Linked DNA regions of Homo sapiens: all the other regions are linked to region 3. The links come from fine-mapping of genetic effects on gene expression. A gene starts in region 3. Each other region holds a variant in brackets. All regions are shown on one strand. Distances are between the middles of the regions.

Region 1 (10,824 bases), 240 kb after region 3:
GCAGTTTTTTTGGTTAAAAAAATTAATCAAAATTGCTAAATGAATGATGCTTTCAGAAGTTTCCTGTTTTTGACATCAGAGTTATATTATAATGCTCTATTTCCTGTTTCCTCATCTAAATAGAATTTTGCTTCAGGCAATTTTTTATCTGAACTTCTGTTTGTAGAAACCAGGGATATTTATTGAATTGTTTCTTGCTGGCTGTTTGATCTTAACAAAGTATTTAAATGGTACTGATGCCCTGGCTTGAGCAACGGAGCATCCCAGACTTTCAGTTAGTTGCACACAGCACACACAAAACTCATTTGAGTTACAGCTAAATGCAATTACAGGCCTCAGAGTTAATACATAGATCACTTCTTATTTAAGGCAATTCACCTTTGAATTGGTTAACCTTTAATTGTTTATAAAATAATAAGATGGGAAACAAAGTTGCTACCTAATATGTTAGTTTCCCCAAATAAACACTTATTTAAAGGTTCATTTGTTAATCAAGTATCTGGAACTTGAAATACATTTTTATGAAAGGAAATACATTTTAGGTGATGATTAGGTTTTTATCAAGAGCTGAAGTTTTTAATAATGAACAGGGAGAGATACTGTGGCAAAACAGTAATTGAATAAAACATACATTCAATAAAATGATATGAAAAATCAATGTTTCACATTTATCCTGAGTCAAATATAGAGAGAATTAAATTGAGGACGACAAAGTGTAGTTTCTAATCATTGTTCCACCACTATTTGACCTTGAGCAAATTGCCTGGAGACCATATTTGGTAGACAGATGAGGATGTACACTTTCTTTTAAATACTTGAGAATTAGCTTAAGTGCTCTCATTTGACAACTTGCTCAGTATTTCATAAATGCCAGGAAATTAGCTCAAATCCTCTGATGAGCTGCATTTTCTGTGTTCAATTTGTATAAATTCAATAAATATTTATTGAGGGTCTTCCATATGCTGGGTATGTGTCTTAGCAAAATAGTTTTAAAGTACAATATGAAAGATCTGATGCTCAATAGTATATCATTAGTGAATTGCAAATTAAAATCTAAATGAGATATCACTATATATCCACTGGATTGTCTAATAGTTTAAGTTGTCAGTATTAAATATTGAGAAAAATGTGGAGCAGCTGGAACACTCATACATTGCTAGTGGGAGATTAAAATGGTGCAGCACTTTGTAAAGCTAAACATATATTTACTATACTACCCAATAATACCACTAAGTATTTACCAAGAGAAAACAATTTTCTACACGAAGACTTGTACATGAATGTTCACAGCAGCTTTATTCATCATAGCTAAAAACTGGAAACAACTCAAAAACATGTAAGTAAATTGATGAACAAATTGTGGTATATCAATTTAATGGGATACCATCCAACAATGAAATAAATCAATGAATGATAACACTGATTGACATGAATAATCTCAAAATCATTATCCTATGTTAATGAAGCCAGACACAAATGAGTATTTCGTATATTATTTTATTTGCATAAAAATTTATAACAGGAAAATCTAATCTATAATGGAAAAAAGTAGATTTGTGGTTGTCTGAGCTAAGGGGTAGAGGAAGATTGACGGACTGCAAAGTGCAAAAGGGAACTCCTTGGGGGTGATGGAAATAGTCTATATCCTGATTAGCAAGATGGTTACATGCATGTGTACCTTTCTCAAAACGCATAGAACATACACTTAAAATGTGCAGTGCTGGCTGGGTGCAATGGCTCACACCTGTAATCCCAGCACTTTGGAGGCCGAGGCGGGTGGATCACCTGAGGTCAGGAGTTCAAGACCAGTTTGGCCAACATGGTGAAACCCCATCTCTACAAAAATACAAAACTTAGCCAGGCCTGCTGGTGGGTGCCTGTAATCCCAGCTACTTGGCAGGCTGAGGCGGGAGAATCACTTGAACCCGGGAGGTGGAAGTTGCAGTGAGCAGAGATCGTGCCATTGCACTCCAGCCTGAGCAACAGAGAGAGACTCCATCTCAAAAGTAAACAAATAAATAAATAAATAAAATGTGCAGTGCTTCAGTTTTCTGAAGATTTCCAGGAGCTTCGGAGGAATTAAACAACCTTTGAGGTAATGACAGGAATTTGAGTTGAGAAACCACCAGCGATGTCAGAGGGATTTTCAGAACCCATGAAATCAGTTCACAAGAGAAAGGGAACACTTTCATCTTTTAAGAAGTCTGCTTACAGTAATATCAGTCATGTATGAACTTGAAAGAGAGGCTTTTCCCAGACTTTCAAATGCCAGAGCTGCCAAAATCTGAGTTCGGCAAAAATGAGGAGGGCAGGGGGTCAAGTAAGAGATGCGAAGCCAACCAGCCTTCCCACTGCCTCCCAGACTGCAGGTTCCCACCTGCTTCTCTGCAAAGCTTTAATTACTAAATTGAGACCCTCTGACTCTATTGCCTAGTGGTCATGGGGGCTGTTGGAAATGTCATTCAGTAGCAGGAAAACGTTTCCCCATTGAATAAATTTTAAAGGGAAAAGTGAGAGAGAAAAAAAGTAGTGTCTTAATTACAATATGTTTGCTATGCTAGTGCAACTTCCAGACAAACAAGTAACACCACCAATCACCCTCACTCTCCTCCTCTCTGGTTCCAATTGGATTGCCTAAAAAAAAAACTTGACGCCGCCACCATCTCAGTCAATTAATTTCGTAAAACTGCAGATGCTCGTGCTCCTTGCTTTGAAGGATGTATGTGGGGAGGGGGAGATGTTACAAATTAAAATGGTGAGGAAGGTGTTTTAAGAAGAGCAAATAGAAACTGTGCACATGTAAATACATAAGTAGCAGTTAATAGTGTTAAGAAGCATCAGCCTTTCCTTGTTCCACTGAGCACAGTGATAAGGACCTAAATCTCCTGACATGAAATAGTAAAGACTCAATACCACTCCATCCAAAATGGAATCCAGTCTCTGGGAAGAAAGAGGAAGAAAGGATAGATTGAGGAAATTGATGGATGGAAGGGGTGAAAAAGGAAGCTAGCAAAGAAAGAAAAAGAAATTCCTAGATTTCCATCTGAGACAGGTTCTATTTGGGCTAGCTGGTGACATGATGAAAAAGTTTTTAAATGTTTGCACCATTTTCTGGACCCCAAATGCCACTCTCCAGAGATACTGTGTAGCCCAATTGACCAACCCAGAAGATCTGAGCTCTTCACAATACTGATCCTGGAACCCGGACTTCCTGTTTCGTGAAGGACCAGAACTTGGTATCATGCATATGTATTATTAACCCTTTAACTACTAAAGACCATGTTTCTTGTGAATATTTTTATTATCACTGAAATCACTGAAGGAATTAAGTTGCCTCCTTTGAATCTTATCAGATTCAAATAATGTCAGTTAGTAGCTTAACAGAAAAGTAACTAGAGATAATTTGAACCAAAACAGAACCTATAACAAATGAATAATGGAACAGTAATAATTCCAGAGTTTGCTGTGGAATAGAAAATTATTTCAAAAGGAATTTCTAAGAGGAAAATATTTCTTCTAACTAGGGCATAGAAAAATATACAAATGAAAAGGTTTTTTTTCCGTGTACCTGAATCTAAAAGGAGTTATGGTGCCTTGATAGCCACTGGCTATTTAAGCTAAAGGGAACAGTGTACATGGTTTATTTTCGCTCTTCTCCGGCATTTAAATTCTGTGTGAGTGTGTGTGTGTGCACATATGCGTGTATGCATTAGACTTGTTAGATTGCTCTTATTTTCCCCAAAAGGCACCAATTGGTAAAATGCACAGGCTTTTCAGTAGGACACACCACCTGATTCTTACAACACACACACACACACACACACACACACACACACACACACACTCCACACTGTCTTCTTACGGTTTGGTTTGGATTTTGCTACTTTTAAACATTTCCAATCTTTCAGTCTGTAGCTTCTTTCCTTTAGATAATTTACATTTTATTGGCAATATGTTTTACATTATTTAATCACCATTTTTTAAGTCATTGTAGTAGGGACGTTTAAGGCCAGGCCAACCTCATGCATAAAAAGATTCAGCAAGAGATTTGCTGTCCTGTGCTTCCCACCACATCTGGGTCAGGCCCCTGCAAAGCAAGGTCATGGGAATGTGGCTGCTGTCTGAGTTTTTCCTTTTCTAGCCCTTAGGGG[C/A]ATGAAGGTCCTTTTGGACATTGAGTTGAAAAAGGTAGTAGTATTTATAACAAATCTAAATGGATTCATATGATTCTTACCCATGCTATTTTAAAACTTCTTTTAAAAGTCAGGCTGAGCTCCTATGGCAAGTGGTCACTTTGTTCATACTGACATTTTTTAGAAAATACCTTAGGGTCTCATGTGAGTAAGAAGTAGATTGCAAGAACTTTGAGAAAGGAACACAGCTAAGGAAGGGGTAAAAGAAAGATGAACTGAAATTAAAAACAAATGTATTCTGTAAAATTTTTTTAAAAGGTAGAGATACCAAGAAATCAAGGGGGAAACATGCATTGTTGCATTCTTGCTTTCACTTCATTTTCTCACATGGATGATATAGAGAAATCAACCGCTAATAAGAATGAAGCCACTTACTATGACATATTATTTTTAACTCATGAAACATTCATAGTGCTTCATATCTCAAAAATATATTTTACATCTTTGCAAATTGTGCACCTTTGCTACTGTTTGTCTAGCAATAGGCCCGTGGTACCCCCAAAGTTAACAGAAGGAAAGCATGTAATAAAAGACAATATTATAAACTAAAAAGTAATGAGAAATGATAATAAAACTAATCAGAATCTACCTTTATTTGATTCCAAAAACTCCTTTCTCCTTACTATTTTATTTACCCCAGTGATACATGTTTCTTATTCTCCATATCAGGAATTGTCATATTCTCCCTGAAATGGTTAGGCTTTTTGTCCCCACCCAAATCTTATCTTGAATTGTAATCCTCATAATCCCCACATGTCATGGGAGGGACCTGATGGGAAGTGATTGAATCCTGGGGTGGTTTCCCCCATGCTGTTCTTGTGATAGTGAGTGAGTTCTTACGAGATCTAATAGTTTTATAAGTGTCTGGCATTTCCTCTGCTGGCACATCTCTCTCCTGCCGCCCTGTAAAGAGGTCCCTTCCGCCATGATTGTAAGTTTCCTGAGGCCTCCCCAGCCATGTGGAACTGTGAGTCAATTAAATCTCTTTTCTTTATAAATTACCCAGTCTTGGGTATTTCTTCCTAGCAGCATGAGATCGGACTAATACCCTCTCCTTATCTCATTTTTAATGATAAGGTCGAATTCTAATCCTACTAGTGAGAGACAGGACTAGCTGGATTTCCTAGGCCAACTAAGAATTCCTAAGCCTAGCTGGGGAAGATGACCACACCCACCTTTAAACACGAGGCTTGTAACTCAGCTCACACCCGACCCATTAGGTAGTAAAGAGAGCTCACTAAAATACCAATTCGGTGAAAAAAGAAATAGTCAAATCATCTATCACCTAAATGCACAGGGGGAGGGACAATGATCAGGATATAAACTCAGGCATTCAAGCCGGATTGGGAAACCCCTTTGGTCCCCTCCCGTTGTATGGGAGCTGTTTTCACTCTATTAAATCTTGCAACTGCACACTCTTCTGGTCTGTGTTTGTTCCAGCTCGAGCTGAGCTTATGCTCCCCGTCCACCACTGCTGATCGCCACTATCGCAGACCTGCCGCTGACTTCCACTCCTCCGAATCTGGAAGGATGTCTGCTGCACTTCTGATCCAGAGAGGCACCCAATGCTGCTCCCGATCGGGCTAGAGGCTTGCCATTGTTCCTGCATGGCTAAGTGCCTGGGTTCATCCTAATCGAGCTGAACACTAGTGGCTGGGTTCCACGGTTCTCTTCCGTGACCCACAGCTTCTAATAGAGCTATAACACTCACCGCATGGCCCAAGGTTCCATTCCTTGGAATCCATGAGGCCAAGAACCCCAGGTCAGAGAACAAAAGGCTTGCCGCCATCTTGGGAGCAGCCGCCACCAACGTGGGAGTTCTAAATACAAAGACCCTCCGGTAACACTAGCATCATGGAATAGAGGAATTACAAGTGGTAGAGGAATTTTAATGCCATCTAGTGTTTCCATGTGTATGAACCATACTGCAGGCCACTGCTCAAACCCACCTTTAGCTCAAGCTGTTTTCTTCATTCTCACTCCCTACTGCTTTGTAGGGAAGCCACTGTAGCTGGCACAATGGCCCATTGACTGGATAAGGGATTGGTAACTAGCCCAAGAAGAGCTCATCCCTAGGCCGTGTTAAAATAATTAATTGGGAAACCATCAAACTGAGGTGGCTCTAGTCCCCTGAGTTCCTACATGCGAACTCAAACCCAACTCAGAGGGAATGGTCATAGCCTAGGAAAATGAACTTAAGCTTAACCAATCAGAAACTGCCAACTAACCTCTAACTAGGGACTTTAAGCCTACTTTAGCCAATCAAATGTTTTCTTTGTCTTGCTTCCGAGAACACCTAATAAAACTTTTTCCGTTATTCCCCTTCAGTGGAGCCCAACCTGGTTGTGGTTTGGCACTGTGAATTCATGAATCACTGTCTGCTCAAATAAACTCTTTAAAATGTTAATGTGCTTAAGTTTATCTTTTAACAGCTGGCAGCCTCCTAGGAGGAGGTGTGGTTCAACAAGCTGTGCTCAGTGGAGGCAAAGGTATGTAGCTAAGCCTGTCAGACTCACTTGTTCTGGAATTTTCCCCAGAGAACTCAGTGACTAACCAGTCAGTTGCAAGAGAATAATGAAGTAGCCCTACAGATAAAAGCTAAGATTCCATGAGAAAAAGATCACGCTGGCCATGACAGACAGAGAAAAGAAAAATCTAGGGATACTTGGAATCTTGACAAATTTTCTAGTCCTAGATTCATTACAAAAATTTTTCTAATCACCACTTTCCCCATTCCTAAAGAAGCTCAAGTAGGTTTTTGTTTACTCACAAGCAAAGGAGAACACCTAGCATCCTTTCTATCCTTCGTCATCCCCTACAATGTCCTTGCCCAGTGGTCACGCTCAGGTTTAAATATCTCTAGTAATAATTTACCACTCAGTTTATCCCAAGACATCTCTAAGTAATTAGGTTTTAAAGCCATTGGTTATATTGAGTGAGCCTTTCAACCTCTGAGTCTTTATTCTCTGGCTACTTAAAGCACTGTGAGACTCAGTATCCTCTCATTATTCTGATCCCTCTCAATTGTAAATGTCCCAGTTGATCTGTAACTTTCCTCAAATTGTGGCTTCCAGAGCTGAAAACAATAGTCCATGTGTGGTGTGACCAACACAGATGGCCTGGATTATTGTCATCCTTGTTCTGTGTAATTTATTACAAGTACTTTACCTGACTGTGTTAGACTTTTTTCTCAGCCCCATTAAATTGTTGCATTATTTAAACTTCTTGTTAATTAAAAGCAGTATTAGAAATGAGTTGGAGATAACACACATGTTCTTACCTTGCACCTATACAGTTGGTTTTTCAGATTCAAGGTCAGGATGTTATATTTGTAAGTTAAACTTCATTTTTGCTAGGCTAAATTTCACGTTTCCAGCCTTCCATCAAATATCACTGACCACCCACCCCACCCTCTTATGATCATTACTTCCTCTAAATTGCTCCAACAAATATATCTATTTCACTCATTTGGTACATCTCTTATTCTACCTAATCAAGTTAGTCAACTTATAATGAACATTGGTTCCAAACTATAGAGCATACATATCTTGTTTTCAGAATCTATAGAATGCCACACACACAATCTTTATTGGTAACTAGTAATGATCAAAAATGAGAAATGTAGGCATATTCAATAGATCCTACATTGTTTTCCTAATCACAGCCTGTGAGCTTTCAGATATGTTACTGGGGCAATTTCAGCATTGGGTCTGATTTGTGAAACCTAGCACATTCTTTCCCCTCCTTATAGAGGATGAGTAGATAATCCTTTTGAAATGTGAGTGGATAATGTATAACTTCAATTGCTAGTCTTTTGGGTGTCCTTAGCATCTTTTTAATACATTTCTACTAAACACTTCTAAGATAGACAGTGGTCTGTCACAGGCAGTTGAGAAGGGCCATTTGGCTTGAGCTTTCAATGTTTGAAAAGCCTCAGATTAGTGATGTTATATCTATGAAACCACCTTTGTAAAAATTGTATCAGTAAGAAAATACTGGCAGTGGGGGAGATCCGATCTAGCCACCCAGCTTTTGCCTTAACCCTTCAAGCTGTCCTTAGTTATTCCTGGACTTGGGCGAAGCTAACTTTGGGAAACATTTAGTTTACAGTTTAAGTGATAATAGTCCTTCCCATAAACTCAACTGCTTTTGTAAAGCAAAGGAAAGACCACCAGGCTAAGAGGATAGAAGAGCCTGAATTCTGCTAAGGTGCAGACATAAAGGATTGCTAGCCATTATTCTGGAGATTACAAAATATACAACTTCCCCAATTACTCCAGCAAATAGCATCACTACTGCAGAACCTATGATTGGCCTTTTGAGATATCTTTTCAGGTTTTTTTGCATGTTTCATAACCAACGGCCCCACCTAAACCCACCAAAAACTAGCTTCTGTGGCCCCACCCAGAAGCAACTCAGTGCACAGGAAGACCATTTCCACATCTCTGTGATTGCACCCCCAGCCAATCAGCAGCAAGCACCTATTGCCTCGCCACCCCCACCCTTTCGCCAAAACTACCTTTGAAAAACTCTAGCCATAAAATTCTTGGAGAGATTGATTTGAATAATAACTCCATCTCCCACATAGCAATGGCTGGCCTCATGTCAATTAAACTCTTCTTTTACTGAAATGCCATGGTCTCTGTGAATTGATTTTGTTTGCGTAGCAGGCAGGAAGAACCCACTGGGCAGTTACACCTACAGCAGCATAGATACACTAAAATTAAAACATGTCACTCTTAATCTTAAACTTATGACCCATTATAACACCACCCCATTTTAAGCACTATAAATAAATAATTTTAACACATCCTTTAATTATTGTATGAATAACAATAATATTACACTACATTTGGGTTTAAAAACAAAGTGTTAATTTGTCAAATGGTTAGAAATGTATCACAATTTTGTATCACTCTTTTCTAAAATGTATTTTTCAAAATATTCTGGTTGCATTAGTAAATGGAGATGAGCCAGGCTTTTCTGTCTTTTAGAGGCCCTAGAGGCAAATGAACATCATAATTTCATTACTTAAATGTTCTCCTGATGGTCCTTATTGCTGTCCACATGAATCTTATTGTCACTTAACAACAAGGCTTTTTAATTGCTAATTCCTGTTTGGATTGTTTCTTCCATTTGGAACATTTTTAATGAGCAGCAGTGACTGTGTGAATCACTATGCTACGTTCAGCGGGGAAAAAAAAAACTTCATCAATAGCAACACAAACGTGATCCTTTCCCTCAATAAGCTTACCATTCCCACAGATACAACCATACTTAGCTATGGCATGCAATAAAGGATCGAGTATTGTATTTTAGGAGTAAACAAAATTACCCATGACCAGAAAGAAAAAGACTTAAGTCAGATTCAGAGATGTGGGGAAAGTTTGCCAGCCTCACATTTCTACACTATGGGCAATCTTGTCTCTAACCACAAAGTCTTTTTGGTCCCTTTGCTCCCACTTCCTGATTTTAGCACCACTGTCATTCTTTGTGGCAAAGAGTATTTCTAGCAAACATCATATATAAGAAGGCACTGCTGTAGCTGGGAGAGGATGCACAGTCACAGTTGTCCCTAATACTTCTACTGCCAAGGTTCCACTCCACTCTGTGCCCCAGGTTGCATGTTCTTTAGTAGTCTCTGTCAAGTGTACTACCTTGCCAGAATCTGGTCCTCCTGGCCAACCCATCCTAAGGGTATACAATGTCCTTTGTCCAGGCCAAATTGAACTGATACAGGGATGACATAATGCAAATGGAACTTCATTAAAACAAAAGAAGAAAAAAGATCAAAATCGGTAAATGAGCTCTTACTTATTCTAGTGTAACCTTCATAGATCACGTTGACTAAAAGATACTAAAGGGTACCAAGCCCCCAATTTTGGTTCTTCTACCCTGTCATTTTGGGTGTGTTTTGGGCATATTCATTAGTGAGTGATAAAAGCTGATATTATTTGAAGATAATCACAGTTTGCTTATCCACTGTCTTGCATTGTGTTATTCACGTTATAGCTGGCATGAAGATGTTACAGAAAAGGGGTACCAATCCAGACCCCAAGAGTTCTTGGATCTTGTGCAAGAAAGAATTCAGGGTGAGTCCACAGAGTAAAGTGAAAGCAAGTTTATTAAGAAAGTAAAGGAATAAAGAATGGCTACTCCTTAGAGCAGCCCAGAGGGCTGCTGGTTGCCCATTTTTATGGTTTTCTTAATGATATGCTAAACAAGGTGTGGATTATTAATGCCTCCCCTTTTTAGACCATATAGGGTAACTTCCCAATGTTGCCATGGCATTTGTAAACTGTCAGAGCGCTGGTGGGAGTGTAGCAGTGAGGGCCACCTGAGGTCACTCTCATGGTCATCTTGGTTTTGGTGGGGTTTAGCTGGCTTCTTTATTGCAACCCATTTTATCAGTGAGGTCTTTATGGTCTGTATCTTGTGCCGACCTACTATTTCATCCTGTGACTTAGAATGCCTTTACTGTCTGGGAATGCAGCCCAGTAGGTCTCAGCCTCATTTTGCCCAGCCCCTATTCAAGATGGAGTTACTCTGGTTCAAACGCCTCTGACAAAATGACTAAGCTGTAACAGTCACCTCCTCCAGCTTCTGGAGCCAGGAAATGGTACGTGATCTTACA
Region 2 (10,824 bases), 54 kb after region 3:
GGACTTTTTTATGTGAAAGGCATTCTGCTAGGAACTTGGAGATGCTCATGACTCTTAGAAGTTGATAATCCAGTTGTTGGTATATAAACAGCACGTTAAAAGATTTTAAAAATCAGTGATGTTGATGTGAAAATTTCAAATTAAAGCTCTAGCTATTAACTGAGACTAGAAGGGGAGGGGAGCAAAAGTCATCTATAGATGGTATGGAGAATAGCTGCAGTGCAAATGGAATCCCACTGAAAGGATTTAAAGGTTCAGTGCTCTTACTTGTCATATTATTGCTCTGCATATGAACTCTAATAAAAGCATTATAGTGGGGCTCACATATATATCCACTATATATGAGTTTAAAATGTATTTATATCCAACAAGACTGCAGTCAAGCCTCAAATAATCTGATTCTTAATTTTGTGTGTTGAGCATATCAATACCAAAAAATTCTTGGTGAAAATAAACTGGATACTAAAAAGCTAATTAGTCTACTGACTATCTAACTGTGGTAATCAGATATTTATTTGGGGACATTATACTAAAATACTGATGGAATTATCCCCCATTTCCCCTAGACATTACGTGCTGCTGGGAAAACATACATGATATTTTTTGTCCTGGTCATTTTCTTGGGCTCATTTTATTTGGTGAATTTGATCCTGGCTGTGGTGGCCATGGCCTATGAGGAGCAGAATCAGGCCACCTTGGAAGAAGCAGAACAAAAAGAGGCCGAATTTCAGCAGATGCTCGAACAGCTTAAAAAGCAACAGGAAGAAGCTCAGGTACTGAGTGATAAAAGCAAAGATTTATCATTATTATTATTAGTTTCTAAGTAGAAATAGTGTTATACTATAGAGGGTAGATTGGAACTGCTTTTTCATTTTATATATAGGCATTGTCATTAGAAAAAAAAGTATTCAAATATGAACTTGTTTCTGAAGTTAGAGTCTAACAAACTTTTTAGCCACTGTATATAAAGAAATCAGCTAGCGGATAGAAAATACATTAGAGATAAGGTTTACTATGGAATTGTCTCATAGAACCTAAGAGAGGAATTTAATTTTTTATTTAATTTAGAAAAGAAATAAAACTGATATTTCCAATTATTAGTGATTCACCCCTAATTATGACATTTGAGATTTTGTTCTGAAGTTAATTGATTTTAAAGGTTGACAAGAGACTTTATATATACCTATGCTTAACAATTCTTTGGGATTTCTGTAGCAAAAAAAAAAAAAAAAAAAAATGTTTGCTATAGCCCACATCAGGATATCAGGAAGGTATCTAAAGTTAGATGCCAACTTGAGATTTTTATTAATATTAAAGGCTGTGTGAGCTAGGGGTATAGTGAATGGGACATTAATGTGTTGAGGAGAAGAGACGGAAACACAGTACTGTATTAAAAGACAGAAAAAAAAATCCATATACTGAAAGGTGAAGACTCACGAATATATAGTAAAAATCTGATTCATGCCAGTTAGAATTATAATTTCTCAATATTTTTGCCAACATTTGGTATGGCCAGTCTTTTTAATTTTAGCCATTCTAATAAGTATCTCATTTCTGTTTTGATTTTCATTTTCCTAATTACTAATGTTGAGCACCTTTTTCTGTTCTTATTTTCCATCTGTATAGCTTCTTTTATGAAGTGGTTGTTCAAATCTTTAATCCCCTCCTTTTTTTTTAGTTAGGTTGTTTGATTTCATATTATTGAGTTTTGAGCATTCTTTGACTCTTTGGGATGTAAGTCCTATATCACATATATGCTTCTCAAATATTTAAAGTGCAGTTTATCCAGAGTATTATTTCTTAGCTTTTTTGTTTAAATCATTCTTTTGGATCTAAGAAATTTTTGCCAAGTCAACACCATGAGTATTTTCTTCTAAATTTTCTTCTTAAGTTAGTTTTATGCTTTATATTTAGGTAAATAACCCATTTTAGTTAATTTTTGTATAACATATGAGTGATATGTTGAGATTCACTTTTTTAAAATGAGTATCTAATTATTCCAACTGCATAAAAACAAAATATTCATTCTCCACTGCATTGCCTTTGAACTTTTGTCAATTATTAGTTGTCCATAGGTGAGTTTGTCTATTTCTGAACTCTATTCTGTTTAGTTTATTTGTCATTTTTATACCAGTACCACACTCTCTTAATTCCTGTACCTTTTATGACGAGTCTTGAAATAACATAGTGCAGGTCCCCAACTTTTTGTTCTTTTTTTTTTTTTTCAAAGCTGTTTTGGCTGTTTTATGTCCCTTGTAGTTCTGTATGAGTTTTTTTTCTAAGTTTCATATATATATATTTTTTATTATACTTTAAGTTCTAGGGTACATGTGCACAACATGCAGGTTTGTTACATATGCATACATGTGCCATGTTGGTGTGCTGCACCCATTAACTCGTCATTTACATTAGGTATACCTCCTAATGCTATCCTTCCCACCTCCCCCACCCACCAGTTAGAATGGCGATCATTAAAAAGTCAGGAAACAACAGGTGCTGGAGAGGATGTGGAGAAATAAGAACACTTTTACACTGTTGGTGGGACTGTAAACTAGTTCAACCATTGTGGAAGACAGTGTGGCGATTCCTCAGGTATCTAGAACTAGAAATACCATTTAACCCAGCCATCCCATTACTGGATATATACTCAAAGGAATATAAATCATGCTGCTATAAAGACACATGCACACGTATGTTTATTGCGGCACTATTCACAATAGCAAAGACTCTATATGAGTTTTAAACTCCATTTGTCAATTGCAATTTGAATGATTTCTATTGCTGTCTTCAAGTCAATTATCTTTTCTTTTGAACATTTAATCTGCCGCTAATTTCATCCAGTGTATTTGTCATCTGAAACATTGTAGTTTTCACCTCTGCAAGCTTGATCTGTGTCTTTTTTATATTTCATATATCTCTAATTAACATTGTGAACATACACAATACAGTTATAACAACTGTTTAAGTTCCCTGTCTGCTAATTTGAACATCTGTGTCACTTCTTGGTCAGTTTTGATTAATTTTTCTCTTTATTATGGGTCACATATTCCTGCAGTTTTATGTTCCTGACAATCTTCAATTGAATTCCAGACACTGTCAATTTTACTTTTTTTAAGTGCTGGATATTTTTGTATTCCCATAAAAATTATTGATCTTTGTTTCGGGACATAGTTATGTTGTTTACACAGTTTGATCCTTTTGTATCTTTAAACATTTGAAAATTTGTTAGGCAGGACCAGCATACCATTTATTCTAAGACTAATTATTCCTCACTAGTGAATCAAGACCCTTCCTAATACTCTACCCAATGCGCATTTAAAACGAAGTGTTTGCCAGTGTAGGAACAGACACTGTTCTGGCACAGTGTGATTGCCAGGTGGTGTTCTCTCTTATCCTCAGCCTCAGGTAGTTTTCTAAGACACATGCTTGGTGAATAATCTTCTCAGTACTCAAGGGGAACCTGAGAAGATCCCTAGAGTTCTCTCTCTGCTCAACTCTCTCCTCTGTGGTACCCTGTTTTGTGAACTATACAACCACCCTGATTTTCCTAAACTCAGCTTCATCTCATCCATTCATGGAGTCTGCAGAGATACTTCCTCTCTACATCATAGTCTGGAAGTTCCAGGCCATAAGCTAACAAAAGCATAGAACTGACTTGCTTGCTTTTCCATTTTCCAATATCTTAAAACATCCTGATCTGATGTCCAGTGCCTTCAAAACTACTGTAACATGTATTTTGTCTGTTTTATTGGTTGCTTCAGGAGAGAGCAAATCTGGTCTCTGTTACTCAATTTTGGCCAGAAGCAGAAATCCAAATAATATTTTTATGCACTGACTTTTTTGAGGATTTTTTTCAGATGAATGGCTCCACATATTTGAAGTATTCTTTGGATGACAGTATATAACAGAAATTGGTATATTCAAAATTTAAGTTTTTAACAATTCTGAGTTACTTTGAAGATGCACAACAAATAGCATTAGGTCCTTTCTCAAGGCATTTTTTGGGGTAATGGAGATACAGCAATGAGTTGTTTAGTGAATTATTGAGCTCAACTCTAGGCATAGCTTTTGCTGAACATGCTAGCTTGACCACTTTCATCTTACCATTGGATACAGAGTAGTAATGTGGATATACCTTATTGATTTTATACAGAAAACTATAAACAAATTTGGTGAAACTTGAAAATATTTTAAAATATACCTCATGCTTGCCAGAAAGTTCTACATTTGAATTATTTAAGAGTTTTATTCTATGTCACCATAAATAAAACACATTTATAATATAATAAAATAAAAATAGCTATTTACAGGGCAAATACTTTATTTCAAGGTTTTAAATAAGTGTTATAGGAAATAATGTTCATAAATTGCATATGATTGTATTTTAAAGCACTGGGTTTTTCTATTATCATTAATAAAAGAAGACAAATTAATGTGCTTGAAAATCCTACACAGATAATGAGTTTATTCTAAAATGCAGCCATTTTAGGGTAAAATATGACATCAATTAAAAAGAGTATAGTCTTTTTGAACTTAGAAATAAACATGCACTATTTCTAGTAGAAGTTTAAAGAACCTATGATTATGATGAGTTCGGCTAAAAAACATCAGTTCTATTACCTTAGTAGTCAGTTACTGAATCTTAGTGACCAAATCATCACAATTTGATTCAGCTTTAGCTTCATACATATAAAATTTAAATTTATCCAAGGTAAAGTATAATACTGATTGGAGTAGCACAGTGCCAAATCCATTTTAGTTCCTTATTGACAACACAAGTAATGATGACTAGTAAATTATCAATGTTGAAGCCAGGAGGAAGTGGAGGCAAAGACAGAATTAGTGCACCTATAAGATCATTTATGCTGCAGTGTAGCTTAAGTCTCCCTAACCACCTACGACTCTTCAAAAGTTACTATCTAGCCAATGACTTCATGAAGGCTAGCATCACTTCCATCTTTGTTTATTATTGGTTGAGGGGCCACCTAGGGCTAGTCACGGTGTAGGCATGAGAAAATAATGTGGAGAAACACAAACCCTGCAAAGAAATCAATGTTTTGTCCTAGATCATTCTAATTGTGTTTGACATTTAAATTGTGATATTTAAGTGCCTAATGTTGCCCAGCTTAGTATATCCCATAGCAGTCTATATTGCTCTGATAGGAAAAAATTTGGGAGTAAGCTCTAGAACAAAATTCGAAATAGTAGCTCTTAAGAAATCTAATATAATTGGGGTAGAACAGAAATAGGTATAATGTCTTGTAGCTTTGAATGGGATTTTAACTGGATTATATACATAAAATGAACAAAGTATTAGTTATGTGGTTATATTTTTACGGACACACAGATACAGTGAGTTACAGAGCCTACTTTGAATCACACAAAAATGTTATAAGAAAATGTAATTTCCTGAGTAAATATTAAGTGAAATTTCTTATTTGTTAAAAGAGGAATTCAGCAAGTTGGCTGTGAAAGTAACACAGTTATTCTCATACGCAGGACATTGGTAGTGTCACAGAGTTGGGTATAAACAGGTACACAGACATGAGAGATGACAGGAAACATCTGCCTTTGAGGGAACTGGCAAATCACTGGAAGTGGAACAAATGACAGATTTGAGTTGATGAGTGA[C/A]ACAGAAAATGTGTCTGAGGTTACCTTTGTTGCCTTAGAAATCTGTTTTGGTTTTGAGTTATTTGAACTGTTACCCAGAATAGGTTTGGAAATAATGTCTTATGCAAAACAAAGTTTGTGGCCGGGTGCGGTGGCTCGCGCCTGTAATCCCAGCACTTTGGGAGGCTGAGGTGGGTGGGTCACTTGAGGCCAGGAGTTTGAGATCAGCCTGGCCAACATAGTGAAACCCTGTCTCTACTAAAAATACAAAAATTAGCCAGGTGTGGTGGCTCACGCCTGTAATCCTAGCTACTCAGGGGGCTGAGGCAGGAGAATCACTTGAACCCGGGGGTGGAGGTTGCAGTGAGCCGAGATCATGCCATTGCACTCCAGCCTGGGCGACAGAGTGAGACCCCATCTAAAAAAAAAAAAAAAGTTTGGAAGTGATTTAAATGGACATAAGTTGTAGGATTATGGTAAGGGACTATTACCACCACTTCCTTTGTTTGCAGGGACAAACAAGTCAATAAATGATTAACACTGTGTGTTGTGTGTTTGTGTCTATATAAAATAGAAAAGAGAATTAAGGACTTTATTTGGATAAGAAAGGGTATATATATATTCACTGTTTCAACAAATGGTGTATATTATGTACCTCATATGTATCCAGAACTCTGTAACTATATTTAACTTGCTATAGATAAGTGATTCATTTATTCACTTTATTTTGCATATATAGTCAGAGTTATAAAATGTACTTAATATTTCTCATTTTACATCATGAATTATATTAAAAGTGATACTGATGATCAATAATTCCATTAAAAACCTGGCTATATGACTCTATAAAATTTTATAAATATCTAAATTCTGAATTACTGTTTTATTTAAATGCTGGGTATTGTCTTATATCAAGTCTTAGATTTGAGCTTCCATTATGAATATAGTGCTTAATATAAATAAATATGTTACATTTTATGTGTTGCTTGGTCAAACACATAAATTTAAAATCATATTTAGTACTAAGTTTCCCTCCCTGAGATCATTGTAATCCTAGAGAATTTGCAGCATAGTAATTTTAGATTTAAAATCTTTTTTAAATTTTTAAACATGAAGTTTAAAAATGAAAACTACTTAGGAGAGTTTGCTTCTTCTCAAGAAAGATGAAACATAAAGCACAAAGTGTTGTCAAAGCATTATAAATAGGTTTTATCTCCATTTCTTCCTAAAATATGTTGTTATATAGACTGTTATGACAGTCTTTTATGATGTCTTGAAAAGTCAAGTCTTTTATGATGTCTTGAAAAGTCAACTTGCTATCTGTAGCAAGTTAAATATAAGTTCTATAAAGTTCTTCAGAAGCATCAAAGTCAAGGTTAAGTATGTCTTGTTCTTCCCCCACCCCCACCCCAGTGTCTGAGACAATTGATAGCAAAGTACATTTTTAAATCTTTATTCACCAATTATTTACTGAGCCTTATTTATGTCAGGTGACATACTAGTCACTGAGCATACAATGATACAATTTCTATCTAGCTTACAGTTAATGGGAAAGATAATATATTAGATAAGTTAGATTTGTTTGTATTTAGTGATGACATATGTAAAAAGTTTAACTGATATTGTCATAATTTAATTATTTTCACTTCTGTGGTTACATTTACAAATAGTAATATACTTAATGAGAACTCAGCTTTGATGCACACCATATTGTTTCATATCCTCTGTATGTCATTGTTAGATCATTTCCAGTCTAAAAATACTATTTGCCATGTTTCACCTCAGAGCTGACTGTGTTTCATTTGTAGGTACAGAAATTCAAAGTGCTTAAGAATACTTAGTGCTGCAATATAGAAAGAAAATATTTGAAGCAGTTCTCATAATCCTTTGAATGAATTTATGTAATGCTATGTTAATCATTTGTTATTTATAATATTAAATAATCTATGAACGTTTAACATTTTTTAAGTGATATGTAATAAATTCTCTGGGAGTAACATGATCACAGAGATGTGAACTACAGTCCTAAATGTAATTCAAAGGAAGGAAGAGGATAAGCTATCTAATACATTTCCCTACTTCCATCTGGAGGTAAAATAGTAGACACTTGAAATGTTTTATGTTCACAAAAAATAAAAGAAACAGTCTTTTGTACTGGATTTAGAGGGGAAAAAATACGACTCAGCTGCTCAGAAGTGCACACAGGAGGAAACGTTTTACAGATGGAATCAGAATGGTAGTTAGATAAGCAACCACCACGAAGAAAACATTTGCTTTTTAAAGTATAGAAGACACTTTGAAGAGAACAGTTGTCACCAACCCCCCCCCCCCAAAAAAAAGACAATCCAGAAGATAGGCAAAACCAGATTTTTCTTGCTTTAATGCATACACTAGCATATTGCTTTATATGATTTAAAACATAAGGGTCATTGTTAAGTAAACTCTTGTGGTGAGACAAAATAAAAGGACTAGAGGATAGACTTTTCACTTGTAGTTAATGAGTCTTAAATGGCAATATTTTAACCATACTCAACTGTTTTCAAAGCTCTGTGTTCTAAATAGTGCCTGGCTTTGTTTTATGACAGGCAGTTGCGGCAGCATCAGCTGCTTCAAGAGATTTCAGTGGAATAGGTGGGTTAGGAGAGCTGTTGGAAAGTTCTTCAGAAGCATCAAAGTTGAGTTCCAAAAGTGCTAAAGAATGGAGGAACCGAAGGAAGAAAAGAAGACAGAGAGAGCACCTTGAAGGAAACAACAAAGGAGAGAGAGACAGCTTTCCCAAATCCGAATCTGAAGACAGCGTCAAAAGAAGCAGCTTCCTTTTCTCCATGGATGGAAACAGACTGACCAGTGACAAAAAATTCTGCTCCCCTCATCAGGTATGATTTTCTACTAAGTGCTCTGGTTTCTTTGTCATTGCTATTGCTTTTTAGTTTTTGTATTTTGTTTTGGTACACTTTTGTACTATCTGACTTCAGTGAGGGACAGGGAACTAACATTTAATATAGTTGTTTAAATTCTTATAATAGATTGTCTTCAAAGGGATTTTTATTAAACCATTAATAAAATGTTCACCATTTTGAGACTGATTATATATACAGATAGATATATTGATATAATATATAGATATATATAATATATATTGATATAACCTATATATCAACCTGTATATATATATGTGTGTATATATGTGTCTATACACACACACACACACACACACACACACACACACACATATATATATATATAACCTACACTAGCAGACTTTTCAATGAGAGTTTTGGAATCTCTTGTTTACATTTTCCATTTTGAGACCCCAGATAAACTTATTTTCTTTGAGAATGGGTTTCTGCCTTTGTTATCCAAAGTTGTGATCGTAACATACATATAAATTTTGAAAAGAAGTGTTCTTTGGGTTTTGTCTTTATCCTTTGATTAAGAGAACTGGACTATGGTGAGTCTCCATTTTGCTTGCATAGGGTCATGCCGTGATACATTAGAATGAAATTATGACCTAAATGTTCTTGAAGAGAACAGCATCAAAGGTAGTCTATTTTTGCTCTGATTTAATGCCAACTACCTGGTTCTTCAGCATAGTTTTAAGTAAAAGAGTAAAAACTAGTTTCAATTATTTGATGTTTAGTAAGTTTTATGGATTAGTAAGTTAATGTATTGTTTACATATGTCTGATGTAAAGAATAATTAGTTACAAAATCTGTGATAAGTACAATTTTGGCTTTGAACACTATTTGGCACCATTAGAATTTCATGTGCTATGAATTGCAAATGCTTCTAATCATAACAATCTTGAGTCAGAATTATACCCTAAAAATAATGCTTTGAGAGATAATATATAAGATTAATTTAATCAAAAACTGCAAATCAACCAAGGGGTATGATATATTTTTCATAAAGAAAGAAACTTCTAAAAAAAACCAGAAGTAATAAACACAAAATTCAACATAGTATTTACTTTTGGTTGGGAGAAAAGGTAATATGCAAGTTCTCAGTGAATGTTTTATAATCTATCTTTAATATGTAAACAAATATTTTTAAAGAAAAAAGTAGACTATATTAATAACTTAAAACTTGTATTCTCATATTAGAACAAAATGGACATGAATACACAAAGAGTTTTAAGATAAAGCCATTTTTCTGCAGATAACATCAATATCAAGAAATTCAACTATTACTATCTTGTGTAATACAAATATAAAATATATTATCAAATCAGTATAACATATTTGGAATTAACTTGAAGCTCTGAAGGGCAACTTGGTTCCTCAGATCAGATTTTTTTTTCTTAAACAGTCACCTTTGATATTTTGGAATTCTTAAAACTATTAGGAGTTATTAGAATTAAGAGTATATGAAACTATAGCATAATGATGCTACAGTGAACACAAACTTTTGTGTTCATATCTCAACTCCAAACTAGTTCTGTGACGTTGGTCAAGTCACTTGTACTTTGTAAAATTTCTGTAAAATAAAGTAAGAATACCTACATTAAAGAGATTTAGGGGACTAAGCAATATATAGAAAATCTGTGTGACAAAGAGTAAGTCTCTTATTAAGTTAAAATCGGTGAATGAATTTCAAGTGAGGGAAAGCAAACTTCTGAGTAGTTTCAATTACTAACAAATGTATATACATAATTTGATAGCAGTATTAGTTCCTTTATTGTTTCATCATTTTGCTCAAATAAATTTTGTAGATCAGTTCATTCAGTCCAATCAACAAATATTTATTGATCGCCAACTATGTAGCAAGCATAGTTCAAGATGCTGAAAATACCTCAAAGAATAAAAGAGACTCAATCCACTGACCTCATGGAAATTTTTTCCAAAGGAGACGGACAATGAATAAAATAAATAAGTTATAGACTGTGTTAGAAGGTAACAAATGTTAAGGGAAAAAAAAGTAAGCAGGAAAAGAGGAACAGGAGCCATAATTGGAGGTAAAATTTTAAATAGGGTGGTTTACAATGACCTCACTATTAAGACATTTTGGGAAAGATTTGGAGGAGGCAAAGAAAGAGGCTCTCTTAAGGAACAGCATTCTAAACTGATGAAAGAGGAAGTGCAAAACCCTGACATGGTAGCATGCCTGGAGTGCTTAAGAAGCAACTGGTAGACTTGGTTTGCTGGAGCTGAGTGAACCACAGACAGGCAAGAGCAGAGAGCTTAGCTGATGGCCAGTGTTTTAATACTAAAAGCA
Region 3 (10,824 bases):
ATTTATGGCATAATATATTAGGCAGTGGGCAAAAGTGAGTTAGTCTCAGTATTTACAATCAGGAGATACAAATCTAAACTAGACTATAGAGGTGTGAAATTGTAGATGACATGTAAATTTTGTTTATTTAACATACATGCAAACACAGTGGTAGTTAACTTTGTTACTAAGATGACTGAAGACAGAAGCATAGAAGCTGAGTATCAGCTTGAATAGGCCTTCTGGCATAAGAGGAATTCCAGGACAGACTCAATTTAAAATAATGATGAATGCCATCCTAGACTCAACTTAAAAAGAGAATAACTTAGAGGTAAATAAGTACAAATAGTATGAAGGTACATCTTTACTGTACTTTTAATGCCTTAAATTTATTTTTTGAAAATTACACTAATAATGCACTTCTTATTACACTAATAAGCATACAAAGTTCAAACAGAACAGATATATACAGATCAAATCCTGGAAATTCCACTTATTTCACCTTTCATTACTTTTTTCTTCCTCAGAGGTGACAACTGTCAAAAAACTCGCCTGTTACTTTGAAATTTGAAGTACAATCCACATGCAAAAAAGTGCATAAATGTTTGGCTCAATGAATTACCAGGAAGTGAATTCCTATATAACTACTACCCAGATTAAGAAATAGGATCTTACTAGTACCCAGAATAGCCCTTATCTCAACCAATCTTGCCAAAAGCTCTATCTTATCTCAAGAGAAACCAATGCTCTTACTTCCAATATTAGAGTTTATTTAACCTGTTTTTATTTTTATCTTTCAAGAATCTGGCTTTGTTGTCCAGGCTGCAGTGAACTGGTATGATCATAGCTCACTGTGGCCTGGAACTCCCTGGCTCAAGTGATTCTCCCATCTCTGCCTCCTGAGTAGCTGGACAGGTGCACACCACCATACCAAACTAATTTTTATTTTTTTCATTTTTTTTGTAGAGACAGGGTCTTGCCATTTTTCCCAGGCTGGTCTTGAACTCCTGGAGGCTCAAGTGATCCTCCCACTTCAGCCTTCAAAAATGTTGAGATTATAGGTTTGAGCCACCACGCCCAGTCCTGTTTTTAAATTTAATAATGTTTTGCTTACATACCTTCTTCGTCCTCAGCCTCAGATTTGTGAAATCCAGCATATTTCTGTGGGTAGCTGCAGTTTTTCATTTTCATGTTAGTATGATACTATAGATTCAGAATACACCACAATTCTTATATCCATTCTCCTGTTCAAGATATTTCTGTTCTTTCTTGTTTGACCTGTTTTCAATAATGCTTCCACAGGCATTCTTGTACACACACACATTTCTGTCAGGTATATGCCTAAGAGTGGCACTTGCTGGCTCACAGAGTAGACTCACGTTCAGTTGGTAATGCCAAACCATTTTTCTAAGTGGTTATACTAGTTTACATTCCTACCTGAAGTCTCTGACAGCTTCTGTAGCTCTAGATTCTCACAAACAGTATGATAAGCCTTTTTAAGTTGTAGCCATTCTGGTGGATGTGGAGTGGCACTTCATTAGTCCAGCAGAACAGTAGTATTCCTCCAATCACTGTCTGGGAAATAATGGTCTAGGAAACAAGAAAATTGGGCCAGAGTCTGGGAATCTTTTGGTAGATCTATGGATGTTACAAAAAGTATTCTTTGGCTATGAAGCTTATAAAATCAAATAGAAACCAGCATTATAGCTCCTACCCACAAAGGCTCTGAAGACCTTGAGTAATCAGAAACAGTAGACATGCACAGAGCAACCTATGAGTCCCAGCTGGAGGCTATTAGCTCTCTTCTAGTGTGAATTTCTGTGATTTATGCATGATATGTTTACAACATATGGTCAGACACCACTAAGGCTCCAGAGACCTTATGTTGGTAATCAATGACTATTTCACCTTAACCCTCTCAGAATCCACTCACTGAAGATTTGCAAACTACCTGTCGTTCTGTCTACAGAAAAAAAGTACGAAAGTCACAATGAAGTTAGAATCATAGCAAATGATACCACACCTCTGGTCACTCTTCCTTTATATAATTTTCTACTTTTAATGACAAGATAAATTAGTTTCTTCAGCAACAAAGAGTAAAGCTCTCTTTGCTGGCATTTATTTATTTTTCTTTTTTTCTATGAGGAATATCGCCACAATAATTATCATTTACTTTTCTTATTTTGTTCAAACCAGTTCTCATTAAAATGTGGCCCAGTATAACCTAAGAAAAATCAGTTCCTCAGAAGACGTCATCAGAAAACTCTTTGGAGCATCTGGATACCCAAAACTGAGTGATAGAATTAATATTCTATTAAATATTACTAGTAATGGTAAAATGAGTGTGGAGCAGTAGGGACTGGCACTTAATGAACATTTAGTTGAGAGACAGTGAGCAGGGCTAGTTTGTTCATGAGTAGAGAAGAAAAAGTTAAAAGTGCCTAGAAAATAGGAATCTTTCATGACAGAAAGTGTACACAATGAAACAATGAAATGTTATAAATTTACACTAAACGTGTGAGTATCAATGATCTAAATTAGTGGAAGCTGATTTCCTTTGTGTTCTTTCAGCATCTGACAAATGCTTGTATTATGAGTGATCTTACCCGATTACAACTGCTTGTGTTGGGATGAGATGTGAGGTGCTGTATTAGTCCATTTTCACACTGCCATAAAGAAACACCTGAGACTGGGTAATGTATAAAGAAAAAGAGGTTTAATGGACTCACTGTTCCACATGGCTGGGGAGGCCTCACAATCATGGTGGAATGTGAAGGAAGAGCAAAGGCACATCTTACATGGTGGCAGGCAAGAGAACGTGTGCAGGGGACACGTTCCTCTTTATAAAACCATCAGCTCTCATGAGACTTATTCATTATCACTAGAACAGCATGGGCAAAACTCGCCCCCATTATTCAATTACCTCCCACCAGGTGCCCCCCATGACATGTAGGGATTATGGGAGCTACAATTCAAGATGATATCTGACAATTCAAGATGATATCTGGGTGGGGACACAGCCAAACCATATCAGGTACTAACTACGTTTTACTTCCCTCACATTTCATTGCTTCTTCACCTGTAAAGTGTGTATAATAATACCTCATATGGGTGAAGTTTAAATGAACATATGTAAAGTGCTTAGAACAATGTCTGGCACATAGTACCAATAAATGTTAGTTTTGTTATTGTTACTAATATTATTAAATGTCTTCATCATTACCTGAGGCTCTTCCCCTACCCTCCCCAATTCTGGCCAGATAGCCAAGGCTATTATTGCCTAAGTGGAATTGTCGTTGGAGATGGACAGAAGAATTGTCAAATTCTTGTGCTTTATATTTAAATTCTTGTGTTAGGGGTTGAATTGTGCCTCCTCTCAAAAAGTTCTAATTCTGAGTAATTCAGAATATGCCCTTATTTTGAAATAGGGTATTTACAGAGATAATCAGGTTAAAATTAGGTTATGAGGGCGGACCCTAAACCAAAGTGACTGGTGTCCTTATAAAGAGGAGAAAATTTGACACAGAGGCATGCACAGAGGGAGGAGTACGTAAAGACAGTGATGCAGGGAGTGCACCATGTAAAGACAGAGACAGAGACTGGAGTTATGCTGCCACAAACCAAGGAACATCTGGGGCTACTAAAAGCTAAGAGAAGCAAGAAAGTATCCTTCCCCTGCAGGTTTCAGAGGAAGCATGATCATGCTGACAACTTGATTCTGGCCTCTGAGTAGCCAGAATTGTGAAAAAAATGATTTCTGTGTCTAAGCCCCTCAGGATGGCAGTTTGTTACAGCAGCCCTAGTAAACTGATACATTAGACATAAGACAAAAAGATTTCAAGGGAAAACAAGTGGCTCCAGCTTACCTTTGGTACAGAAAGAAGAGACCCAAGCAAAAACTCTTTTGAGTCTGTGAAGGAAGTTATGAAGAAGGAAAGGAGTCTCTGATAAGGGCTCCTTACATAGTTTGCCAATCTAGGATTAGCTAAAAAGATGAAAAGATGAGAAGTTTCCATCTATTTACACTATTCTAGTGTGGCAGAGATTGTGCCTCGCTTGCCTGAAGCCTGCAGAGTGCATTACATCCCATGGTTTACAAACAGCAGAACAGAGATGGCTGTGTGAGGCGCCTGGGGCAGGGAGGAAGGCTTAAGTCAGCCAATTACAGCCAAGAGTGACCCTGGGAACATGCTGCTTTTTCTTCTCTCCTCCTAAAGGACAGGAACAAAAGTTTCCTTAGAGGAAGAAGTGACAAAGAGGGGATGCTGCCATGCAAAGCTGGAGGGATGCTATTCCCGGGGCCCAGTGGGCCTGTGGGTACGTTAGTAGATATGAGGGATAATGATGGTCATGGATCATGCAGGACTCCTGGCCTCAGTGGATGCCCATGTGGAGAAAGGGGGAACGGGATCATACTCTGCTTTCTCTATATATGTACACAATCCTGAACTTAGATCAGTCTCCATGAGAAGGAGAGATAGAAGAGGAAAATCATGTATTGGTTGAATGCAAACCCAAAATCATTGGGAAAAGCCTCAAGTAATTTAGTTTACCTGGAACTGACTAGATTTATTTTTCTGCCATTAGACAAAATGGGGGCCACAATTGAAAACGAAGTATGTAATTAACAGTTCTTGAACACATGGCTGGGAAATATGGTATCAGCTATATTTGTTTTTCTTCTTTGTATGAGCTCCTTTATGGCAGGCACTGTGTGTTTCTCTCTGTGTCTTTTCAAGTCTAATATAATACTTGACATCATTTTTGTCCATCCATACAGTTGGTTTGTCAATATGAATGTATTTATTTAATTGATGATAAACTGTAATAAAATCATAGTTGTTTGCTCTAAAGTAGATATGAAAGGTCAGATGAAACAATAACATACATCTGGATTGAGAAATATCTTAATAACTGATGGATTATTTTTATTTTCTTTATGTATTGTGTGCTTCAATATCCTAATAAATAATATTAGCTAGGTTCACTGATGTATAGAATCTTTTTCTACATTTAGATATTTCTTGCAAATGTTTTACCAGAAAGCAACACAAAAATACTATCAGTGAGTATGTGTTTACACTGTTCTCTAAGGAGTCAAATTCCTCACCTTGAAAATAATTCATCCCAGGAAGAGAAAAGGTTTTCAAAAGACTAGAGCAGGCCACAAGGGAGCTTTCGCAAAACTCTACACGTAAAGGGTAATGTAAACTTAAAACCTATTTTTCAAACAGTAATTTATATATCTTTTAATTTTAGTAGTTTATGTGTGAAACAATCATGCAAAACAACAAAGTGATAAAATTTTTTAAAAAAATTAGTGAGATGCAAATAACTGAATATGTAAAAGGTCTCATACATATTTATATGTAGTAGATAAGTTACATTTTTTTAGTGTGTTGGGAAATTTTAGCTCACATCACCTCTCTACTGTCATCTTGGGGCACTTTCATGACTACCCATGCTTCATGCAGGTTTACTTTCCTCCCTGTGACAGAGGATAATGGGAATGTTTTTTCTTTGGCTCAATTTTGTGTGTGTCCGCCAGTAGATGGCGGTACCACTTTGAGTGCGATCGGCCTTTTTTTCTTTCTTTTTTTTTTTCCTCAAAGCTGTTTTCTGATATATGTTGGGTACCATAGAGTGAATCTCAGAACAGGAAGCGGAGGCATAAGCAGAGAGGATTCTGGAAAGGTCTCTTTGTTTTCTTATCCACAGAGAAAGAAAGAAAAAAAATTGTAACTAATTTGTAAACCTCTGTGGTCAAAAAAAAAAAAAAAAAAAAAAGCTGAACAGCTGCAGAGGAAGACACGTTATACCCTAACCATCTTGGATGCTGGGCTTTGTTATGCTGTAATTCATAAGGCTCTGTTTTATCAGGTAAGCTGACAAAACATTTCATTATCTGCACCATAGAACCTAGCTACCAGGTCATTTTCCTTACTTTAAAATCATCTTCATGCTGCTATTTTTAACCCAGTGTTGTTTAAATGTAAATTACAGGAACCAAAGGCATCGTTTGATGTGTAAACTGCTTACTATTTCTTTATCTTTCAAAGAAAATAGAGCCTGTCTGGAAATGGTGATTTATGGTACATACTAGGCATCAATGGTCTTGTGTTTTTGTAGATGCTTATGATTAATTGTATTCAGAAAAAATATTTTTTATTATACTTAAAGCTAGTCTAATGAGTTTCCTGGCTGTATGTCATCTATTTAAATGCCCAGTGTGTCCAGTATTTTTTAAACATAAATGTATAGTGAAATTGGAACTATCATTCTTGTGCTTTAGTTTTTTATTTAACAGCTTTAGAGAGGCCATGCATATAGGGAGTGATAACAATATAGAGGTGTTTGGCTTTGTGAAATACACTATCATTTTTCTCTAAAATCTGTTTTCATAGAGAAAAGAACACCAATACTAACCATTTAAAAGAGGTTGAACCTTCAAAAAATAAAATAATCTCTATATGTTCCATAATATGCTACTTCTTTATCCTTTAATATATTCATTTTATATTAAATGTTTACCTTTTAATTTATTGATTTAAAGATTATTATATATTCTTAATTGTTCTATAAGCTTGATAGATTGCTGTTTTTCTGTATATATTTAATAACTGTTTATTTTTATTAATTACCAGGAAGAACCACTGGAGCCATAAAACAATAATTTACTTTATCTATGATCCATATTGTCTGTAGTTGTATTTAGAATATTCTATATCATAACCATAAATGTTTCATTCAGTTAGCCACCACATAATTAGAATAAGAAATTATTGACAGAAAATCTATACATATTAATTGAAAGATAAGTTTTAAAAATCATACAGGGTTTTAAAATACACAACAGGTAGTATAATGTGGCTTATGAGGACAAAGATAAAGGCATAAGTGCTTGTAGGAATTTGCATGGAAACATTTCATCACATTCACTCCAAATAGAGTGTGCCCTATATGAAATGAAGACTTCTGATTTCAACAGGGCTTCCAGTCAGTACTGGCTAAAAGGGCTTCAAAAATAGAACTTAAGGCCTCCAAACTGTAATTCCTAATGATATGTTGAAAAATATTGACATCTCACTTAATATTTTACATTGAGTAGCAATAATAGTCCCCCCAAAAACATTTCAAAATAGTGGTTGCCTGAGAGGAGAGCCCTGGGTCTTGTCTATTTCAGAAGAATTCCTACCATAGGAGATAAAGAAAACTATTTCTTTGGACAGGGTTCCCAGAAATGGCTGTTAATTAACTTGAGTGTATTGTACACACCATGCTTCTCTACAGGTGACTAAATGTGAGTAACTTTGTTCTGAGTAAGCATCAGAGCTGGTCTTGATTGAACTGGTTTACATTTATGAATGAATGCTTAATTTTGGCCCCAAATGTTAGCTTTTATTTTTCTTGGTATAGTTGCAACAGTCTCTTAGTTATTCATCTATACATGTGGTCGCCATGTGAAAAAGCAAATACACTCAGAGTTCTTCACTTCACAAAATGCGCTCTTTCAAAAATTTCGGAAATTAAACCTGCTTTGATTAAATGATATATCAAACACATTTGAATAACTTACTCTTTAAAAGAATGTAGTGGTGATTTCATTTGTAAAGTTGAGAAAAATGCTGTGATTTATTTGAGTACTGAAGATAAAAAGGTTGAACCCTGAGCTGAAAGTCTTGGGATCTGGTTCATGTTCTGCTACTAGTGAGTTTTGTTGTCTCAGAAAAGACCCCAAGTATCACTGAAGAGCATTTTCCTTGCCTACAAAGGAAGGAAATTAGAATCAAAGCTGTATAAGAATACTTTGTTTTTAAAATTTTCTGATCCTCATTTATTTGGATTTTTCTTCAGTTGGTTTCTCAGCTTAATTAAGATACAACTTTGACTCTCACTGAGTTGTAAATTATGATTGATGTGCTAAACATGAAAGTGGTAAAATAGAGAAATAGGGGCGTTTCTTGGCCAGTTCCTTCTGTAGTGGAAACAAGCAGGAAACAACATGGAGAAGTGGTTAAGAGCAAGAGCTTGGCAGGTTACATTTTATGGCCACTATTACCTGACAAGTTATTTAAACTCTCTGAGCCTTTATTACATCATCTTTAAAATAGGAATAATAATGCCTGTGTTACAGGATTGTGTAACTAAAATAATGTCTGTTCAGTGCTTGGTATAGATCCTGGAACATGATTACGAACCTCCTTCCTCTCTCTCCCTGCCATCCTAACTCACATCAAAAGGAACAGGACAAACATAAAGGCATAAATTTTCATCATTGTTATTATTGTTATCGTTAGTGCTGGTGATATAATATCTTCCACCACAACAGGAAGGATAGAATAAAACTGCCAAATAATTATGTACCTGAAAAGTGAATAATTCTCATCCTGGAAGGATGCCCTTGCTGAAACAACAACAATTGTGTACCTATAATAGTATCACTTAGTGTTAACATTCCAGGCAATTCCTGGAGAGTTTATAGAACTCATAATGCCTTCCAGAAGACAGTTATTTATGCCCAATATGTTATCACGGACTTCAAAACTTTCTTCTTCTTATGAAAATAGAGGCAAAGGGCCTTATTTCACGTTGCCTTAAGAGGATATACCTGTTAGACGAAGTTTCTGTAAAGATTCACAAAGGGAATCTAGGTTTCACCAAAACCACATTTAAACGCCAAGTAATTTCTACTAAGACCACCAGATAACTGAACCTAAATCTCAGGAAAGTCTTTGCTATGTGATCAACTCACAAACTCTCTAATGCTTCAATTCTATTAACGGTACAATAAGATGTGGAAAGGCAAATTGTGCTTGATGAATGGTTGATGGACTGCAAAATCCCTGCTTTCCTCCAAAGGTTGTTTCTAAGTGTAGCTTCGTGCTCCTGACAGCTGTGTGCTACTGGGGTCTTTGGGAGCTAGAACTTGGATGACCTTTCAGCACCCCAGGCCTCCTAATCCTTCCCTTCAACCACCCTAGGCCTCTTTAAACTGACTCAAGTAACTGCGCTGTCAGCTTCATCTTCATGGCAGCCAAGATGACTTAATGGACTCTTGATTAGGCAGATCTGAGAGGGCTAAGAGCTTGGGAGGCTTAAAAATATGAGGGTAGTGTTTCTCAACTAGACAAATGCGGTGCTTGGAATTTGTTGCTCATCTGTCTCTCAGTTCTAGGTCACTCCCAGCTCTTACGAGTTCTTATCTTTAGGGTTGATGATAACTAAAAGCATCCATAAGAATAAGCATTTAAAGATTTTTTTTCACCAAGAAATTAACACTTGATTATATAGTGATATTTCTTTACATAGGTAGCTGTGAAGATTACTTTTTTCTGATTTTCATTTATGTATAGAAACATGAACTCACTGAAGGTTGGGAATTCATGTTTCATTTGTCACCTAAAAATATATTATTCATTCGCACCTTAATATTAATGGTTGTTTTACCAGTTTTCCAAAACTGTGAGGATTAATTACCCACCTACCAGTGAAATATAATTACTTAACTCTATTTCTGTACTTTTAGGTTCGTTTTAAATTTTCGATTAATTTTAATTCTAACTGCTTTCATTTTCAAAATGTCATGCTTACGTTTTACCTTATAAACAACTTTCATGGCAAATCCATATAGAACCTGACATCTGAATTACTTCTTGAGGTAGACTGAACAATTGTAACTTGAGGTAGTTAGAAAATTTGGAAGAAAGAAAATCATATTCTTGCTTTATATTGTCGGTTCACACATTTATCTTTGATTGAGAAGCTACTGTTTTAGTTCAGCTTTACCTGAAAATATTTTTCCCTCTGGGATGAAATTAACACATTCTTTGTTTATATTTTAATGGGATGTAACAAGTGCAGACACCTATTTCGGAGCAGAATAGTGTTTCCTCTTAATAATACAGCAATAAATAAAATCTTGCTCTTTTACTAAGCACAGACATACTTTGTTTTATTAACTTCCTGATAGGCACCAGCTCTTTGGATACCTAAAATCTGAATCTACATCAGAAATATAATTTGTTAAAGTAGAATAATTCTTTAAAATTTATATGAATACCTACTTAACTGGATACCACAAGTTTCAATGTGCCAAGTATTTTTTTTTTTTATTACTTTTTTTAATATCCCACTTCTTTCCTGTAAGGATTTGAAATGATAAAGGACATTCTGGAAAGAACTTTAAAGAAGGTTTTACCCAAGATCTATGAATAAAGAACAACTGAAAAGTAACTTGCAAGCAAGTTTACAATATTAAAATACAGCACATGTAAACATATGCTGGGTGTGGTTGTATAAATGAATTTTCAGGGGTTTTAGTTCAGAGAAACCTTATGAAATCTGGAGTTATTTCTGTAAGAATTGAATTAGGTTTTCATTTTTTTGGAGACTGCATATAGGGAGCCCTTCATGTGATTAAACTCTGTGCTGGAGCAAAGTTAGAGAAATGATGGTCCCTTAATTATTAAATAGTGGTTTAATATTGTTTTATTCAATGGGTGAATTCAAAGTCACTCTTTAAATAACTTTGACCATTTTCTGCCAAGAAGCTCCCTTTTGGGAATTTTAATCTCCTGATTTTCAGAATATACTTTATTCTTACTTTGGTTGTACAGAACATTTTGTCCTTTTCCTTTCCCAAGAAAGAGCTTGAACTGGAATAATTCACTAAATTCCAATTCATATTTCTAACAAGTGACATTGCGCTTCTGGTCTAGAGTCCAACATATTCTTGCATAAGGTTTAATAGGACACGTTTTGTGGGCTTAAGCCTCTATTTGAGGACTAGTCACCTGTTTGTTAGTTTCTCTGTCTCCTTGGTGTTTCTGCTTGTGACATTTATTT

Which allele goes with the higher level. Positions count from the first base shown, and alleles are read on the strand shown. Sizes are in standard deviations (SD) of each study's normalised expression. Not every link is listed here.
With allele A in place of C in region 1, the expression in skeletal muscle of the gene that starts at base 5,632 in region 3 is higher (small effect, 0.29 SD a copy in GTEx).

Evidence for each region. PIP is the estimated chance that this variant, and not a neighbour inherited with it, causes the effect.
Region 1: its variant is fine-mapped to the expression of SCN3A in skeletal muscle (GTEx, PIP above 0.99). The same link has a PIP of 0.9 or more in esophagus muscle, left ventricle and thyroid.
Region 2: its variant is fine-mapped to the expression of SCN3A in whole blood (TOPMed, PIP above 0.99).

The regions. Positions count from the first base shown.
Region 1 is chr2:164,963,761-164,974,584 of GRCh38, reverse strand. No RefSeq gene overlaps it. Among named protein-coding and RNA genes, the nearest start is that of SLC38A11, 14 kb to the right of the region's middle. The variant C/A (reference allele first, on the strand shown) is at 4,152.
Region 2 is chr2:165,144,401-165,155,224 of GRCh38, reverse strand. SCN3A (sodium voltage-gated channel alpha subunit 3) reads left to right here. Exons shown (of 28, transcript NM_006922.4): 11 at 567-773; 12 at 8,196-8,486. Among named protein-coding and RNA genes, the nearest start is that of SCN3A, 54 kb to the left of the region's middle. The variant C/A (reference allele first, on the strand shown) is at 5,632.
Region 3 is chr2:165,198,858-165,209,681 of GRCh38, reverse strand. It overlaps SCN3A (sodium voltage-gated channel alpha subunit 3), which reads left to right and starts at 5,632. Exons shown (of 28, transcript NM_006922.4): 1 at 5,632-5,859.